2 linked regions of the Homo sapiens genome follow. The protein of the gene in region 1 purifies or fractionates together with the protein of each later gene. This does not show direct contact. Each region holds a gene or a part of one and is shown on either strand. Other genes may lie near its edges. The genes, in order: PRR19 and HIBCH.

Region 1 (4,573 bases):
ACCACGTCCAGCTAATTTTTTGTATTTTTAGTAGAGATGGGGTTTCACCATGTGGGCCAGACTGGTCTCGAACTCCTGACCTCAGGTGATCCACCTGCCTCGGCCTCCCAAAGTGGTGGGATTACAGGCGTGAGCCCATGGTGCCCAGCCTATTTATTTTTTGAGACGGAGTTTTGCTCTTGTTGCCCAGGCTGGAGTGCAGTAGTGCGATCTCGGCTCATTGCAATCTCTGCTTCCCAGGTTCTGGCGATTCTCCTGCCTCAGCCTGCCAAGTAGCTGGGACTATAGGCATGTGCCACCATGCCCAGCTAATTTTTGTATTTTTAGTAGAGACAGGATTTCGCCATGTTGGCCAGGGTGGTCTCGAACTCCTGGCCTCAGGTCATCCGCCTGCCTTGGCCTCCCAAAGTGCTGGGATTACAGGCGTAAGCCACCACACCCTGCCTAGAGTCTCTCACTTTAAACCAAGCCCCAGGCTCTGTTGCTCATGCTGAGGTGGGCGGACTGCTTGAGCCCAGGAGTTCAAGACCAACCTGCGCAACAGGGCAAAACCCCATCTCTACAAAAATTACAAAAATTAGCCAGGTGCATGGTGATGTGCACCTGTAGTCCCAGCTACTCGGAGACTAAGGTGGGAGGATCACTTGAGCCCAGGAGGCAGAGGTTGCAGTGAACAGAGATCATACCACTGCACGCCAGCCTGGGTGACAGAGCAAGACCCTGTCTCAAAAACCAACCAACCAACCAACCAACCAACAAAACAAACCAAGCCCCATAGAAGCAAGACTCACTTCATGAAAATCCAGTCTGCTTGAGCCATGCATTGAATCAATGGCATTACAGTTGAAACTTATTTTGATGAAACCCATTACAGTTGGACATGCTTTGTGGAAAGATATTATTATGATTGAGTCCTCTTTGTGGAGTGCCATTAGAGTTGCCCTTCGCTTCCTGTAAAGTGACTATAGCTTTGTGTAAACCCAACAGGGCTGCGCACTACTTAAAGCAAACAAGAAAGAGCCTCACTTTAGGCAAGCCTATGGCAGGAAAGCCTCATTTTAGGTCTTAGTACATTATACACAAATCCAATCTGATAAAACCAAGGCATACATTTCTTTCTCAATAGAATGTTGCACCTTACACCAAGATTCTCAGAGCCTCGGGCTGCCTGAGGCCAATCTGGGTACTCTCATAATACCTCACCTGGCCTGGGTTCTGGTCCAGATGTGTCAGCATGGACACAGGGCTGGATGGGGCAGGGGGAGAGGGACTGCCCTCACCTCGCACTGGTGCATGAGCTGGACCAAGGAGTCCCCGATGAAGACGACTTCGGGTTCCTTATCTTTGCTGTCAGCCACGAACCGATGGTGCTGCGGGAGCGCGCGAGAGGGAGTCAATGGCATGCACGCTCCAGGGCCCGCCCCGCCCTGCTCCCTTAGGCAGCGCCTCCTCAACTGCCCTCAGTTTCCCAATCAGGTAGTGAGAGTGGCACGAACCAGCCGTTCTCCTGAGCCACCCCCCGCGCCCCCGGACTCCTCAATATCCCAGGTGGGAACGCTCACCAGGGACATCCAGCGCCCGTCGCCCTGTACGTCCTGCACCGGCGTGGGCTTGCTGGCTGGGTTCTCCTCTCCACTCATCTTGGCGCCGCAGCTCCTGCAGGATGAGCGAGTCGGGTCGGCCCGGGAGTGTTCCGAACGGAGCTGGCTCCGCCACGCCCACTCCTACCCCTCGCGGCAACAAAGGACCGTCCCAACGCTAGCACACCCGCGGAGGACGAAGGCCGATACAGGGCGCCGCCTCCTCTCCAGGGACGGAAGCCTTCACTTAGGAGGTAGGTGGAATCAGGAACCTTCGCTTCCCCCACGACGGCCGCACAGTGGGCTCGCCCGGCGCTTCCCGCTCGGGCCGCTGACTCCCAGGCCGCGCACCCGGCACGGGGTGGGGGGAGGGAGAGGCGAGACCATCCAGCTCCCGAGGCGGGGAGGAGGGAGAAACCACCCACCGGTCACGGGGAGGGGCGAACTACCTGAAGAGTCGAGAGTGGGCGGGGAAAATCTAGCCCTCTGTCTAGCAAATGGGAAGAAACCATTTGCTGTACAGAGTGAAATGTGCGGAAGGGACCACCTACTGTTGCGGGGGGGGGGGTGACCCATTCACGTGGTGGGGGGAGGGGAGCGAGTGGACGAGTCCATTCTTATATTCCCTTGAAGGGGTGGCTCGAATGCACCTGGCTGGGGGGGACGCTCCTATTTTCTACTGATGTGGGGGACAGAAAAGGAAGATGACAAAATGTGAAAATTCGAGGCTCCCTTCTAAGGAGCCACTCTAAGGCCGCGCCAGGGCTTTAGTGAGCCTATCTACTCGTGGGCTTCCCCTACTCAAAACACCGTGGGTGTGTGTGTGTGTGTGTGTGTGTGTGTGTGTGTGTGTGTGTTGAAATCTAAAGTACATATCTTTGCATTCAAGACATCACAGGACCCCTACTCAAAACACCGTGTGTGTGTGCGCGCGCGTGGCATAACATATAAACTACATATCTTTGCATTCAAGACACCATAGGACCTGCTTGGAGGGTAGAAGAAGGTGCAGAAAGAGAAAGGAAATTAGAGACGCCTCCAGGGCTCAGGTCCAGTCTGGCGTCCCTCCGGCAGATCATCTTGCAGATCTGCAGCCTCTACACTCTCTCTAAACCCACAGGCCAACTGGGTATGTCTGAGCTCTGAAACCTACATCCATAGCCAAGGCCACCTAGGGTCGCGCCTCTCCCCCAACGCTGCCCCAAATTAATCTCAGACCTCAGTGTCTTCTCAGATCTCCCTCTTCTCTGGGACCAGGTGGGGGGCTCACTCCCTGCTAAACGTCCTGGTCATGTTCTTGTAGCCTCACTCCAGGTGGGACCTTCCCATGTATTCATTCCTTCGAGGTGGATTGATACTGAGACAGAGATGAGTGTTATTCATTGTGTTTATGTTTTCAATCCACTTTCCTGGAACTGGGCCGGGCACACAGTGGTTATTCCACAAGTGCTTGCTGAATGAGTAGTAAATGAGTGGGTCAGCTCCTGACCTTGTCCCAATGTGTTTAGGGAGACAGATCCAGACACAGAGGTGTAGGGGTGTCAAAGTTGTGTTTGAGGGAGAGACAGGGACCTCTGGGGAGGAAGAGGAGAAGGACTCTGAGGACTATGGGTTTCCTAGGAGTAGTATCTCAGCTGGGTCTGAAAGATAATGAAGAATGGGCAAGCAGAAAGAAAAGACACAGGTAATCACTTTCTTATTAGGTTTGGGGAATATCGTGGAATAGCTTGATTTTAAAGTCTGAGGGAGGCCAGCATGGAGGCTCATGCCTGTAATCCCAGCACTTTGGGAGGCTGACATGGTCGGATCACTTGAGGTCAACCAGCCTGGCCAACATGGCGAAACCACGTGTCTACTAAATATACAAAAAAAAAAAAAAAATTAGCTAGGCATGGCAGCACACGCCCGTAGTCCCAGCTACTTGGGAAGGCTGAGGCAGGACAATTGCTTGAGTCTGGGAGGCAGAGGTTGCAGTGAGCTGAGATCGCGCCACTGCAGCCCAGCCTGGGCAACAGTGGCCCAGCTTGGGTGACACAGCGAGACTCTGTCTTAATTACAAAAATAAACAAACAAATAAAGTCTGAGGGAGCCAGGTGCAGTGATGCATGCCTGTAGTCCCAGCTACTGGGGAGGCTGAGGTGCGAGGATCGCTTGAACCCAGAAGTTTGAGACCAGCCTGGGTAACACAGTGAGACCCTGTCTAAAAAAAAAAAAAAAAAAAGGCTGGGCGCGGTGGCTCACGCCTGTAATCCCAGCACTTTGGGAGGCCGAGGTGGGCAGATCACGAGGTCAGGATCGAGACCATCCTGGCTAACACGGTGAAACCCCGTCTCTACTAAAAATACAAAAAATTAGCGGGGCGTGGTGGCAGGCGCCTGTTGTCCCAGCTACTTGGGAGGCTGAGGCAGGAGAATAGCGTGAACCTGGGAGGCAGAGCTTGCAGTGAGCCGAGATGGCACCAGTGCACTTCAGCCTGGGAGACAGAGCGAGACGCCGTCTCAAAAAAAAAAAAAAAAAAAAAAAGGGCAAGTGCCTGTAGTCCCAGTTAGTTGGGAGGCTGAGGCAGGAGGATAGCTTGAGCCTGGGAGATGAGGTGGCAGTGGCCCATGATGGTGTCACTGCACTCCAGGTTGGGTGACAGAGTGAGTCCCTGTCTCCAAAAAAGAAGTCATAATCAGCTAGGCACGGTGGCTCACTCCTATAATCCCAGCACTTTGGGAGGCTGAGGTGGGCAGATCACTTGGCGTCAGGAGTTCAAGACCAGTCTGACCAACATAGCAAAACCCCATCTCTATTAAAAAATACAAAGATTAGCTGGGCAAGGTGGTCTGCGCCTGTAGTCCCAGCTACCTGGGAGGCTGAGGCAGGAGAATCGCTTGAACCCGGGAGGTGGAGGTTGCAGTGAGTTCAGACTGTGCCACTGCACTCCAGCCTCAGTGACAGATTTAAATTCCATCTCAAAAAGAAAAGGAAAGAAAAGAAAAGAAAAGAAA
Region 2 (3,811 bases), on another chromosome or scaffold:
CTGCAGATGTTACTAATGACATCATATGGTCTTTTTCCCCAGCAATGTTTAACTGCTGAGGTACAGGCAAGAAGGTGGAAAGTAGGGTTAGACCACTGGTCAATTTTGCCAGGCCAGCACGAAAGAGGGAGAAAGGGTAGGGGATTTGAGGGCTTTTTGTAAGGTAATAAATGCATGTTTCAAAGGCCACAGCAGCAGGATGGCAGCAGGATGAGTTTACAAGCTCAATGCTGCACTTATCAGATGCAGTCCATGATTGTAGGGGCAGGATTACCTTATATATAAATTAGGAAACAGTGGCCAAGTTATGTGAATTTTTAAAACAATTATCAGTTTCAAAGACTGATCTTCCTTTTCATATCCCAGATGGTAACATATTCTTTAAAAACATACACAACTTTGCAATCTTAATAAAAGTTTAATTTTCACTACTAAAACAACTATAGGTTGAGTATTCTTTATCTGGAATGCTTGGGATCAGAAGTGTTTCAGGTTTGATTTTTTTTTTTTTTTTCAGATTTTGGAATATTTGCATTATACTTATGGTCCAATGAACATTTGAGTGTCATGTTGGTGCTCAAATAGTTTCAGATTTTGGTACATTTTGGATTTTAGGATTTGGGATGCATAATCTGTATCTTCTTTAATTAACAGCATATGCTCACAAATCCCATTTCCCCAAAATGGTAAGTTCCCATTTGCCACTTACCAGCTCTAACGCCTTCATGAAAGTCATGACCTCTCTGAAAGAAAATTGAGATTAAATGGGGATAATTTCTGGGTGTCCTTATTCTGGGTTATTTTCTCTCTCCTCTATTCACTTCAGCCTTCCACTCCCATGGCCACAACCTGAACCATGACATTCAGAGACTGAACCACCTCTGATAGCCCACTCTCTGATCACCACCTCCTAAATCTTATTTGCTCAAGTATCTCCACTGCTACAAATCATTGATCTTACTGAGGTCCACAGATCCTATGACTTTCTCCCCATCTGTGCTGGCTTCACTTTGCTCTTCATCCAGCCCAATTTCACCAGTCCTTTAATATGGTCACTTTCCTGTCAAAATGTCATCATCTCCCTCAAACCTTTTTTCCTTTTTTACAATCCTAGCAAAATCCTGGCACCAACTAAACCCTATCACGTACCCCTGCCTGCACTTCAGCAGCTAAGTCTTGCTGCAGAAAATCATACAACTGTGACTGGTTTCATTTAAAATTCATGATCAAAAATCTCAAACAGGCACAGAAAACTGCCAAACAATCCAAGATCTCTTCCCAACTCCCCAAGATAATGATTTTAAGTGTTTTCTGCCTTCTCAACCTCTACCCGTAGAGCACACTCTTATTATAGTCTCAGCCAGTTACTTAACCTCTGACTTCTTTAAAAATACGAGAAGCTCTTAGATATGAAGTCTTGTCTTCTCACCACTAAAACACCTGCAGGCAACTGTGGCCATCTGCACCTGCCTTCTCTTTCAATGCCGTGGAGGAAAGGACCATCCCTTTTTCAAAGACCAGTCCTCCCTTGCATTCCAATTCACATCCCCTCTTGCCTTCTCAAGGATGGACTTTGCTTGATGTGGTCATTCACTTTTATTTTCCTAGAATCATCGATGTAGGCAATATAGCTGAGTTCAAATGTCTAGGTTCACATCCTGATAGCTACATATTAACTATGTGACCTCGGACTAGTAATTTCTCCAACCCTAGTTTCTTTACATGAAAAGGTAATTTATATATCCATCCTAGGATTATTTTAATCCACATCCAAGCACAGTGTCCGACACTAAGTGTTCAGTAAATATTAACTACCATTAGTATCATCAACATAATCTTGTTTCTCTATTGGATCATTCCCAATCATTTTTAAACATGTTCTAGTACCTTCCATCTTACAAAATAAAAAAGGAACTTCATTTGATTCCACAGTCCCAGCTTCTATCCTATTTCACTTTCAAGAGTATTCATCTACACATATTCTCTCCACTTCTTCACATCCCATTTTTCCTCTCCAACTTACTACACTCTAACTTCTGCCCCCACTCCTCTAAAATGGCTTGCCAAAACCACCCATGACATCGGCATCGCCAAGGTCAAATGACACTTCTAACCTCGTCTACACTTTGACAGCGTTCAACACTGTCCATTACACCCTCCTCCCCGAAACATTCCTCACTTTCTTTTGTGACACTACACTCTCCTGGTCCTCCTACCTCTCCATCCTTTTTTTCCTTCCTACTGCTCTTTCTCTACCACACCTCAAAATGTTAGAGTTCCTTAGGGCTCAGGTCTGGACTCTCATTTTCTTTATAATATGATCTTACCTATTCAGTGCTCAACATAGCAGCCTGAGTGATCAATTCTTTAAAGTATAAGATCATGGCATTCCTCTCCTCATAATCACCTAGTGGCTTCCCATTTTACTCAGCCAAAGTCCTTAGAGAGACCTTCAAGGCTCTGTATGCTCTGCACAGCCTTTCTCTACACTGTTTCCTCTGACCTCATCTCTCACTCACCACAACCTCTGCCCCCCATCCGCTTCCACACGGCCTCTTTGTGGTCCCTAGCACAGGCAGTCATGCTCCAGCCTCACAGCTTTGTTCTTGCAGTTCCCACTGCCTGGGATGCTCTTCCTCTAGATAATGGCATGGGCTCACTTCCTTACTTCTTTCAGGAATTCACTCAAAGAACATCTCAGTGAGGCCTTCTCTGGTCATCCCATCTACAATTCATCCCCCTGTTACTCTATATCACATATCCTGCTTCCTTTTTCTTGTTAATATTTATAATCATATAATATATATTTTATGTATTAATCTTGTTTACAGTCTATTTCCCCATTATAAAGTAAGTTCCATGAGGGCAGGTGTTATCCTACTCCCTACTCCCCAAGATAATGATTTAAACTGTTTTCTGCCTTTTCAACCTCAACCCCTGGAGCACACCTATGTACCTGGAACCTATGTACCTGGGTACCTCTAACAGTGTCTACGACATAGTAAGCACTCTTGTTTAGTAAATAACGAATCCCCAAGGTTTTCTTAATTGCTGTTGGTGTCTTTCAGATTTAAATCTCCAACTCATTCCTCTAATCTCTAACTCCTAAATGCATTCCTTCCCTCACATCCAGCAAGTCCTATCTATTCTATCTCCTACATGTGTCTCAAATCCATTTACTTCTCTCAATTGCCACCATGCTTGTCTCAAAACTACTATTTCACACCTGGATCACTGCAGGAAATCTATATCTGGTCTCTAAACCGTTCTTGAACCTCTCCAACCCTATCTCCACACAGCAGCAACAATTTCCTTCTTAAAGCAAATTGAACCGAATGAAATGAAAAATCAAATCACCTCCTGCTTAAGCCCAAGAGTCTTCTCAACATACTCCTTTCTCATCCTTTAGGTCACAAATGAAGTGACATCACAAAGATGTCTTCCCTGATCTACTTAAGGAGGTTTCCCATTGCCCCCCAACTCCCTCCTGTCCCTGCATAATCTCTTCTATCACCAACCCTGTATGTTTTCCTTTAGAGTACTTATCACAATTTATAATTATTTTACTTATTTTGTTTACTTGTTCTTTGTAGTCTCAGTAGACTAAACCCATGAAAATAAAGGACTGTGTCTTCTTATTCAACAATATAAGGCTAACACTGAGCACAGTGCCTGGGACATAGCTAACATATTTGCTGAGAGAATGAAGGCAAGAATCAATCAATCTAGGCAGTGCACTAAAAGTGTAATGAAAAACATGGAATGTGTGAGGTATACAGGAGAGTGGTCAAGAGTGCAGGCACTGGAGTAA

What was found.
Region 2: the proteins of PRR19 (region 1) and HIBCH purify together in Homo sapiens (affinity purification with mass spectrometry; one large-scale study listed by BioGRID and IntAct). This does not show direct contact.

Annotation. Positions count from the first base shown.
Region 1 is NC_000019.10:42,300,670-42,305,242, forward strand, and holds the start of PRR19 (proline-rich protein 19), read left to right. Parts: upstream 1-1,462; 5' UTR 1,463-1,562; coding exon of another isoform or gene 1,563-1,640; 5' UTR 1,641-1,834; exon of another isoform or gene 1,835-1,955; intron 1,956-2,029; exon of another isoform or gene 2,030-2,131; intron 2,132-2,454; exon of another isoform or gene 2,455-2,709; intron 2,710-4,573. Other genes in the region: PAFAH1B3 (platelet-activating factor acetylhydrolase IB subunit alpha1), read right to left, coding at 1,281-1,370, 1,563-1,640. UniProt on the Homo sapiens protein: Promotes meiotic crossing over formation through its interaction with CNTD1 by participating in the crossover differentiation step of crossover-specific recombination intermediates.
Region 2 is NC_000002.12:190,208,171-190,211,981, forward strand, and holds part of HIBCH (3-hydroxyisobutyryl-CoA hydrolase, mitochondrial isoform 1 precursor), read right to left. Parts: intron 744-3,811; coding exon 710-743; intron 1-709. UniProt on the Homo sapiens protein: Hydrolyzes 3-hydroxyisobutyryl-CoA (HIBYL-CoA), a saline catabolite. Has high activity toward isobutyryl-CoA. Could be an isobutyryl-CoA dehydrogenase that functions in valine catabolism. Also hydrolyzes 3-hydroxypropanoyl-CoA.